Homo sapiens: one gene and its partner. The protein of the gene in region 2 interacts with the protein of the main gene of each other region in a pairwise test. Each region holds a gene or a part of one and is shown on either strand. Other genes may lie near its edges.

The links. Proteins that work in one complex are often made in the same cells at the same time.
Region 1: the proteins of IQCB1 (region 2) and KIF9 interact in binary tests that used the Homo sapiens proteins (3 or more experiments, as listed by UniProt).

What each region holds. Positions count from the first base shown.
Region 1 is NC_000003.12:47,227,466-47,230,806, forward strand, and holds the end of KIF9 (kinesin-like protein KIF9), read right to left. Parts: intron 1,238-3,341; coding exon 1,187-1,237; 3' UTR 533-1,186; downstream 1-532. UniProt on the Homo sapiens protein: Essential for normal male fertility and for progressive motility of spermatozoa.
Region 2 is NC_000003.12:121,797,030-121,804,068, forward strand, and holds part of IQCB1 (IQ calmodulin-binding motif-containing protein 1), read right to left. Parts: intron 2,346-7,039; coding exon 2,167-2,345; intron 199-2,166; coding exon 89-198; intron 1-88. UniProt on the Homo sapiens protein: Involved in ciliogenesis. The function in an early step in cilia formation depends on its association with CEP290/NPHP6.

The DNA.
Region 1 (3,341 bases), about 75 Mb from region 2:
GACAGGACTGCCAGGTGAGCAGAACCTCCTCTCCCACTGTTGGAAGAATAACAGAAACCTCAAGGCCCTGATGAGGGTGTCAGACGGGGGAGCACCCACAGAGTGTCAGGCCAAGGCCTTGACCCATAAGAACAGAAGAGGGGGTGAGATACAATTCCAAGGAAGCACTGAAACTTTTCGCTCAGTGGAGACTTGGTTTACCAACCCAGGGGCGTATCAGTCAGCCTGGAAGGCCCCAGAGGGCCTGAGTTTGTTCTCTGAGCAAAGTAATGAACTCTTTCCCTTTGGTGCCACCACCAAGGGCCCAAGCTGCAGCCTGGTAACTTGATAGAGAGTGATATCTTCTCTCTTCCCTGCTCAGCCTTGACAGTGATCCCAGTTCCTATTCAGGGTAAATCGTTCACTTTCACTTCTGCTCAGTGCAGCCTACACGGAGAGAGAAAGCGGGGAGGGGAGGCACCCTGGTGCCTGGTGGCCGTGCATGCTGCGTAGGGAAGGCCGTGGTGTTCTGGAAACATGCAGAGGACATGTCTCCCAGAAGCTGCTCATTTATTCCCTGGTACATGGAGCCAGCTCTGCCTCATCCCTTTCTGGTCTCTGTGGCTAGACCTTATCCTCCCCTGGTTGCCAAATGAAGGAGGGCCTCCTCCTGTCTTCTTCACTGGCTCAGAAACACAGAAAAGATGTCTTGAGAGAACTTAGGGTCTGAGGGAGCTGTGAGAAGCAGAGCTCCTCAGACCGAGCTCACCACCCCCACCCTAGGATGTCTATCCAGGAAAGGGGCTGACCAGTGTGACAAAGGCCTGCCAGGAGGAGCCTGGCTGAGCTACTTTTCTGCCTTCCTACTTGAGACTCAGTTCTGACCTCACACATACATAGAGAATATGTCCTTTCAGACAGGAAATAAGACAAAGTTCTCAGATGAGCACTGAAAGTCCAAACTAGAAAGTTATTTTATCCTGTCCCTGCATATAAGACAGTGAATTAAAACCCAAAGTGCTCTGTGGAGATGAGCAAGGTTGTCCTTGGAGGATGCTCCTCCCAACATGCAGGCCAAATGTGTTCTCTGTGCTGGGTCCCAGCATTGGAGTAGAGGGGGCTGCAGCTCTGGGCAGGTGGTTGAGCAGCTCCACTACAGTAGGTGGGAGTTGCTGGTCTTGTCCTTTAAGGTACTGGCGATGAGGTTCTATTTTCTATGTGCCTGCTGGAGGCCCATCATGGTTTTCAAGTAATTATGCTGGACACAGAGGGAAGAGAAAACAGGAACTTATTAGGAGGGACAGACATAGCAGGGACTCAGACCAGGCCACTCACATTCACCCTATCATTCCTCCTGCAAACATCATGGGTTGTGGACAAGGATTCCTTCTGAGTAGCCCCAATTCTCTGAGAAATAACATCCATTCAAACTCTTTCATTCTTTTATCCTAAAGAAAGTGTGTAAAACTATTTTAAAACAGTCTGGCAGGCATATTTGAAAGGAGGCATATAGGTTTCAAGGGCATTCTTGGGAGTTTCTGATAGGGAATAGGTTCAGAAAGAAAAGAAGAGGGTTCTATCTCCAGAGGAGTTAGGGGCCAGGTATTCAGAAGGGCCCTCTCTTTGCCACTGCAATCAATCAGATGTTCACAAATTATACCTTTTTAATGCATCACTAGGCTCTTAGAAAGCAGGTGAAAACTGTAGGCTGAAACAGAAACAGTGGGCTGTAAGCCAGCAAACGCTAAAACTAGCTTGGAACATGGAATCTTAGGTTCCCCACAAAGTAGGAGTCTGAATTGAAGCTCCCATATTAAACTGGAATTCTTGAAGAGGGTTAAAATGGTCCTGGGTTGGTAATGCCCCATGGGTAACTGCAGAAAGCAAGTGCAAACCTTTTCAGGGGGAAAATAATTTCTATTTATGTGTTCAGGTCTCCTTGAGCTTAAGTTCAATCAAACACAAGGTCACGATTTCAATACACACACAAACACACACACATACACACGCCACTGTCAAGCCACCATGAGACTCAGTAAAACAGGAAACAGATTTTGACCATGAAAAATCTGATCTATATGTTTCCTATATAAAAGTATATATTTAAATAACTAAAACATAGAATTGAAAGAACATGGAATGGTTCGAGTATAACATTTGCATAAAAAGTCTGTGCATGGGCATATCTTAAACATTAAAAATGGCCAACACAGAGAATTATAGAGATTGGGGAATGAGAGAATAGAATTTTGACCTGTAGAAATACAGGACTCCTCTGCTTAATGATTTAGAATTTTTTTTTTTTTTGAGATGGAGTCTCGCTCTGTCACCCAGGCCGGAGTACAGTGGCGCAATCTCGGCTCACTACAACCTCTGCCTCCCGGGTTCAAGCGATTCTCCTGCCTCAGCCTCCTGAGTAGCTGTGATTACACGTGTGCACCACCATCCCCGGCTAGTTTTTGTGTTTTTAGTAAAGACAGGGTTTTACCATGTTAGCCAGGCTGGTCCTGAACTCCTCACCTTAAGTGATCCACCCACCTCAGTCTCCCAAAGTGCTGGGATTACAGGCGTGAGCCACCGTGACTGGCGAGTTGCACATTTTAAATGGGTGAATTGTATGGTATGCAAATTCTGTCTCAATAAAGCCTTTTAAAAAGCATAAAATAAGAATTTATTTAAAATAACTATCTGGGCACAGGGGCTCACGCCCATGATCCCAGCACTTTGGGAAGCTGAGGTGAGATGATTGCTTGAGCCCAGGATATCAAGACTGCAGTGAGCTATGATCGTGTCACTGCACTCCCTCCAGCTTGGGTGACAGAGCAAGACCTTGTCAAAAAAAAAAAAAAAAGGCTGGGTGCAGTGGCTCATGCCTGTAATCCCAGCACTTTGGAAGGCCCAGGCAGGAGGATCCCTTGAGTCTAGGAACTGAAGACCAGCCTGAGCAACATAGGGAGACCCAGTCTCTATTTTTAAAAAATTGTTTTTAATTAAAAAGAAAAAGAATGCCAGGCACGATGGCTCATGCCTGTAATCCCAGCACTTTGGGAGGTCGAGGCGGGTGGATCACCCGAGGTCGGGAGTTCGAGACCAGCCTGACCAACAGGAAAAATCCCATCTCTACTAAAAATACAAAATTAGCCGGTAGTGGTGGCGCATGCCTATAATCCCAGCTACTCAGGAGGCCGAGGAAGGAGAATCGCTTAAACCTGGGAGGCAGAGGTTGCAGTGAGCCAAGATCACACCATTGCACTCCAGCCTAGGTGACAGAGGAAGACTCCATCTTGTGGGGGAAAAAAAAAGAAGTTACCCAGGCTGGGCACAGTGGCTCATGCCTCTAATCCCAGCACTTTGGGAAGCCA
Region 2 (7,039 bases):
AGAAAGAAAGTGAGGAACATTTAAGGAAAACTAAGGTTTAATATAGTCAGCAAATATCATGCAATTTTTTTTTTTTGTAACTTAATACCTGCTCTTCTACTTCCTGATAGACCATTGGGCTTAAAAGGCCAACAAGCTGTCTAAGTTCTTGACTGAATTCAGTCCCAGTTTCCTGTTTACTTAGTAGACGTCTGAGTCCTGAAATGGAATAGCAAAAGGTACAACTATTATTATAATAATAAAATATGATTTTGTTATCTAATCAGTATTAATTTGAAGCTAAAAAGTCTGGCTTAAAAACAAATGAAAACAAGATTAATCATATGATTTTTCTTTTTCCTTTTCTCAGAGAATTCCAGGTTGAAATCTTTAAGATATTCCTCCCTCCTGAGAATTCTTACGTGCTCAATTGTGGTATCTGATAAAAAAAAAAAAATCTGTCTAGACAATCTCTTTAATAAAAAAAAAAAAAAAGGAGTGGGATGGAATCACTGTGGTAAATCAAAAAGTAGAGATAAATTTTTTTTATTTGAACAAAAATACTTAAATGGAGACATTTTAAAGATAAATTACTACAGACACATATTCAGTAAATGCTTGCCCTGTGGAAGCACTTATGCAGATTATTATTAGTCATTATTAGTTGAAAAAGATTATTAAATATAAACATATGGTAACATATATAATTTGGGGCAAATCAATAGGTTCCTGGGAAAACATTATAGGTGAAGTGCTACAACACTAGGATAGTACATTTTCATGCCAAAATAATACATAGTAGTAGTGAAAGGTACAAAGTAAGTACTGTTTCCAGGGTACACTGAAATGATGTATTATAATGTGTGTATTCAAAATAAATACATAAGGTAAAATTGCCTTGTAGTGTATAATTGGGGAAACCACTATATGGATCTTTTAATGCCTTATACTCTCTTCAACACCCAAGTTCTCAGCAGTATTAATAATTGTAAAATATCTTCAGGAATCTGAATAAGTTCTGCTATTGAGATATAAGTCAAAGAAAGGGAGAAGGATTCAGGTAAAATTCCTTTATAACGACTCTGTTGGACATTCACATTTCTTTAGGAATTGAATTACAGAATTGAAAAATGTCTATCTGGCACAATATCAACTAAAGAGCTCTATTACTGGTACTTTCCTTCTCTATTCCTACAATACCCTCAGTAATGACTAATTCAAGGTACATTATTACAATGTCTTCAAAATCATCAAGAATGATAAAGACCTTTCTAGTTGTTTAGGTATTAAATGCATCATATTATATTCTAACCTTTAAAAATTCCCATACAGTATAACCCTATGTTAATAAGTATATTTAATGAACTAGAATCCCATTTCCTGACCACGCTGAATAAGAAAAATAGATTATAATACATACATGGCTCTGGTCAGCAAAGAAATAAAACAAAGATAACATATAACTTTGCTTGGCAATTAAACAATATATATACTACCTTTGTGATCTTGGGCAAATTACCATGTCTCTGTTTCTATATCTATAAAATAAGGATAAGAATATCTATCCCATAGGATTGTTGTAAAGATTAAACATTTTAATGCATATAAAGTATATGGAATGTGCCTGACACACAGTAAATGCTCAATTAAATGAAAGCTATTATATGAGAATGTATATACGCTTACTCCTTTTATCCTCAAAATTTCTGACTTTTAATTCACATATGTATTTGATTTTGGAGGTAAGGCAATTTTTTTTGTTTGTTTTTGAGGAAAGGCAGTGTTAAGTAATTATTGATAGTTCAAAATACCATAAGGGCCACTGGCCTCTCAAGCACAGCTCCATTTTCTCCACTAAAGCTGGTCTTGATAAGGTCACTGATCTTTTTGGTCATTATTTTACTATACTATATGGTATATTCAACACACAAAACCTTTTTGTCAGAGAGGGAGTAAATATTTATGGCAACCTGATCAGAAAAGTATCTTCCACATGCTATCTGTAGTGACATGAAGATAGCTTGATTATATAAAGACTTTTTTTTTTCTGAATTGGTATCTGTTGTGAGTTTTATCTACATAGGTCAGTTATCAACTCTTTAAAATATAAGAATTTTGTTTTTCATAAACCATCAATAAAAATTTTCTTTTTGAGAATCCCAAGAAAAGAAAGAATGAATGTACTACCTTTGTAGCAGGTACTTTGTCTCAGTAAAATCAAAATTTCCTGATGGGATTCAGCCATCAACAGTAGGAGTTTTGTAGCAGTACTTCTTATAACTGGACTAGGAGTTGAAAAAAGCTTGAAAATAACTTCATCTAAAATTGAATACAGGGCTTTTCTTCCTATTCTGAGTAAATCACCACTAATAGAACAAAATAAAAAAAAAAGTACCATTACTAATTGATGTACAGGTATCACAACAAATCTAAAATATAAGATTCAGTAACTTGATGCCGGACTGTGTCCTGATCCAAGAATATAACCACTTTTTCAAATATATGTTGGTTCCAAGAAGATATCATATTCAGTCACTTAATATTTATTGAATTCCTACTGTGTGCAAGGTGCCATGTGTGCTAGGTACAATAGAGAATACAAAGTAGCCAAAGGCCTTCTCCTTAGAGAAGCCTGCAATCAAATCAAGGATGAAATATAAATGTGCAAAATACTAAACAATAAATAATTTAAAAGCTTCAAGGCAATGATAAAAGTGAAATCAAGACAGGTACACAGTTAATTTTTAAATGATGTACAAAGACAAAAATGCCATAGGAATTCTATCATGTGCTTAATATAGGAGAAACTTAAAATCTTTCCTTGGTATTTCCTTCATTATACTAACAACCCATCTTGTATTACTGATGTTGTGAAAAATTATCTAAAACTTAGAAATAGTCAAAAGGAAAGGGTTAGTGAGTATCCTTTTATTTACCCCCTTAAGGAGTTATGTGATTTTCTAGGCGTATGTACCTCTGTTTAATTTTCTACTCACTATTAAAATACTTTACAATTCTGTAAAAATAGAGGTTGGCTGGTAGAAAACAATGCTAAAGATTCTTATCTAAGAGCAATGTAAACAGACTCTTATTCAAAGCAATACAAATGATTTCTGTCCAGTAGAAAAGGTAATTCTAGAAGCTACATTGCTTTATAAGTCATATTTTCCTATTAGCAAATTTTAAAAATCTATCAGCAAATTTACTTCTACATTTCTTCGACAAACCAACTCCATAAATCTATTTTCCTCAAATTCTCCTTTGACCCTGTATAAATATCTTATTTGTTCCCTCATTAATGAGTTGCATAAAATTTTGAGCAGTCAAATTTTATATTTGTATAAGACTCATGTTTGAGCTTTTTGAAAATTGTACTTTAGTAGTTACTAAAATAATTTTGTTAAGAGAAAAGAGATCAGCAACATACCTTAAATGTAAAAATCTCTGAGTTGAAAGACTTTATAAAGTTATCCAATCAAAATATGTGAGAATCTTTGTGACATCTACTTCTGTGCCACTGTGTCTCTTACATGCTATTCCCTATGCCTAGGATGCTCACCCTGTCCCATCAGTCAATGTCATCACACTATTCAAAACTCAGATTAAAAAATATGCTCATCTCAGAAAGCCTTCTACAGATATCCCTATCCCAATCTTATCACATCTTTACTCCATATCCCACCAAGAGTTTGTGCTATAATGTAATACAGTAGTTTAAATGCTTTTAGATGCTCTTCAACCTCCTAATCTTAAAGACATCCTCTCTATACCACTACCATCTTATCTCTCTGCTTCTCTTCTAATCCAATTTCTGTTGCCACTATCTCACATCTCATTTCTCAAACCACTGCATCTAGTTTTCATTTTTTACTATTTCACTATACTATCCTTGATAAGTTCATCAGTATAACTTCCCAAATGTCAAGTCACATATATACCATAAGTGATTCTTTTCCTAGACTTGTTTGTATCTGATACTTTCTACTTACTCAGCTTCTGTGATACAAAGTTCTGGTCTCCCCTCTACCTTCCACCCATACTTTTCTGACCATTCTTTTTCATTTGTCTTTGTGGGCTCCACTTCCCCAGTATAACCCTAAAAGGTTATTCCCCAAGACTCCATTTTCAAGCCATTTATTTTCTCATTGTATTCACACTTCCTACTAATCTCACTTTCTGTCATGTTTTTCTCTACCATGTATAAGCTGATTTGTAAATCTGTAACTCTAGTCCCAATCTCTTCCAGAAGTTAGTTTACCTATTCACCTGATGGACATTTGAGTTTTAGCTAGTCCTTGTTTTTCACAAATAAAGCTCAATGAACATTTGTGTATAAGTCTTTATATAGATACTTACTTTTACTGCATGTTGAACTACCTATACTCAACATAACCAACATTGAATTAATCATCTGTCTCACAAAACCAACTTCTTATATATTCCACATACCACAGTCTAATCACCCAATACAGAAAACTTGGTATCATATCTGACTGCACCATTTATTTTATCTACCCCATATCAAAACATTCACCAAGTCATCATAATTTTTGTTTTAAACAGCTTTTTAAAAATATAATTGATATACAACAAACTGCATATATGTAAAGCATATAATTTCATCAGTTTGACATGTTTCACCAACATAAAACAAGAAAATGAATATATCTATCACCCCTAAAAGCTTCCTTGTATTTCATTGTAGTTCCTCCCTTGTTGCCTTCCCTATCATTCTATGCCCAGGAAACCACCGATCTGCTTTCTGAGAAAGTTCCCTTGTATTACTACTTTGCTGCAAGGCCTTTTTTTTTTTTTTTTTTTTTAATTAAAATCAGGGCTAGATAATGGATTTTGTCAAAAGCTTTTTCTGTATCTACTGATATGATGGTATGTTTTTTCCATTTTTAGCTTGTTAACATAAGTTACAATGACTGACTTCAGAATATTAAACCAGCCCTGAATGCCGGGATAAACCAGAATTATTCATGACGTATTAACTTTTTAATATATTGTTGAATTTGACTTATAAAATTTTGTTCAGAACATTTCTATCTATGTTTATGAATATACTGATGAGTAGTTTTCTTTTCTTATAATGTCTTTGTTTGGTTTTGGTATCAGGATAATGCTGACCTTATAGAATGAGTTGTAAGTGTTTCCTCCTTTTCGATTTTCTAGAAAAGTTTGCTTAAGATTATTATTTCTTCCTGAAGTGCTTAATAGAATTCACAGTGAAAAAGCCATCCAGACCTGGAGTTCTCTTTGTGGGAAGGTTTTTAGCTACAAATTCAATTTTTTTTTATAGCTATCTAGAGTATATTTGGGTTCTCTATTGCTCCTTGAGTAAATTTTGGTAGTTTGCGTCTTTCAATAAATTTGTCCATTTGATCTAAGTTGTTAAATTTATAAGCATAAAGTTGTTTATATTATTCCCTTGTGATATTTTTAGTATTTGTAGACTCTGTTACGATGTTACCTCTCTAATTCCTGAGATTGGTCATTTGTATTATGTCTTTTCCTTTCCATATTAATCTTGCTACAGGTTTCTTCTCAAAGAGCCAGTTTATGGTTTGTTTTCTCAAAAAACTTCAATCTTCCCAAAGATCCAGTTTATGGTTTATTTCTCTATCACGTTTGCTTAGAATTTTATTGATTTCTGCTCAACCTTTATCATTTTCTTTCTTCTGCTTAGAGTTTAATTCCCCCTTCTTTTCCTAGTTTCTTAAAGGGGAAAGCCGAGGTCAATGATTTGAGATTTTTCTTCTTTTCTAATATATAGGCATTAGTGATATAAATTTCCCCTAAGTATCATTCTGCTTTAATTAAGAATTTCCCCAGAAATTCTCATGTTGTTTTTATTTCCATTCATTTAAAAATAATTTCTAATTTCACTTTTGATTTCTCCTTTGTCTTGTGAGTTATTTAGATGAATGTTATTATTTCCCACATATTTGGGGACTTTTCAGAGATCTTCTTGGCATCAATTTCCAACTTAATTCCATCGAGGCCAGAGAACATACTTTGTATAACTGAAATCCTTTTACGTTGCTTTTTTCTTTTTTTTGAGACAGGGTCTTGCTCTGTTGCCTAGGCTGGAGTGTAGTGATGTGATCTCAACTCACCGTAACCTCTGCTTCCTGGGCTCAAGAGATTCTCCCACCTCAGCATCCCAAGTAGCTGGGACTAGAGGCACCTGCCACCATGCCCAGCTAATTTTTTGTACTTTTTGTAGAGATGGGGTTTTGCCATGCTGCCCAGGCTGGTCTGGATCTCCTGGACTTAAGTGATCTGCTCACCTCAGCAAAGTGCTGAGATTACAGGTGTGAGCCACCGTGCCCGGCCCCTTTTGTGTTTCTTGAGACTTTATTTATGGCTCGGAATATGCACCCTTCTTTGTAAATGTTCCATCTGCATTTGAAAAGAACATGTATTCTGCTACTGTTTGGTAGAATATTTGTAAAATGTCAATCAGGTCAGATTGGTTGATATTATTGTTCAAATCTGTGGTCATACTAATTTTTTTGTCTACTTATTCTATTAAATATCAAAAGAGGTATATTAACATCTTTTGCTTTAATTGAGGATTTCTCCTTGTAGTTCTTGTCAATTTTTGCTTGTGTATTTTAAAACTCTATTAGGTCAATAAACACATCCTTTTGATGAACTGACTTTTTTTATGATTATGAAATAACCTTCTTTAGCACTAGAAATATTCTTTGTTCTGTAACTTACTTTATCTGATACTAATACAGGTACTTCAACTTTCTGTGGTATAAGCACGGTATATCTTGTTCCACCCCATTACTTTTAACCTACTTGTGTCTTTATATCTAAGGTGCATTTCTGGTAGACAGCATATAGTAGGCTTGTACTTTTTAAATCCAATCTGTCAATCTGTCTTTTAACTTTAGTTTTTCCACATTTACATCTAAGATAGATAGGTTTAAATCTACCACTTGGTTTTGTTTCTCCTTTGTTCTTCTTTTTTTTTTACTTCCTTCTTCTGGATTGCGTATTTTTTAATGATTAATTTTTATTGCCTTTGTTGGCTTATCAGCTG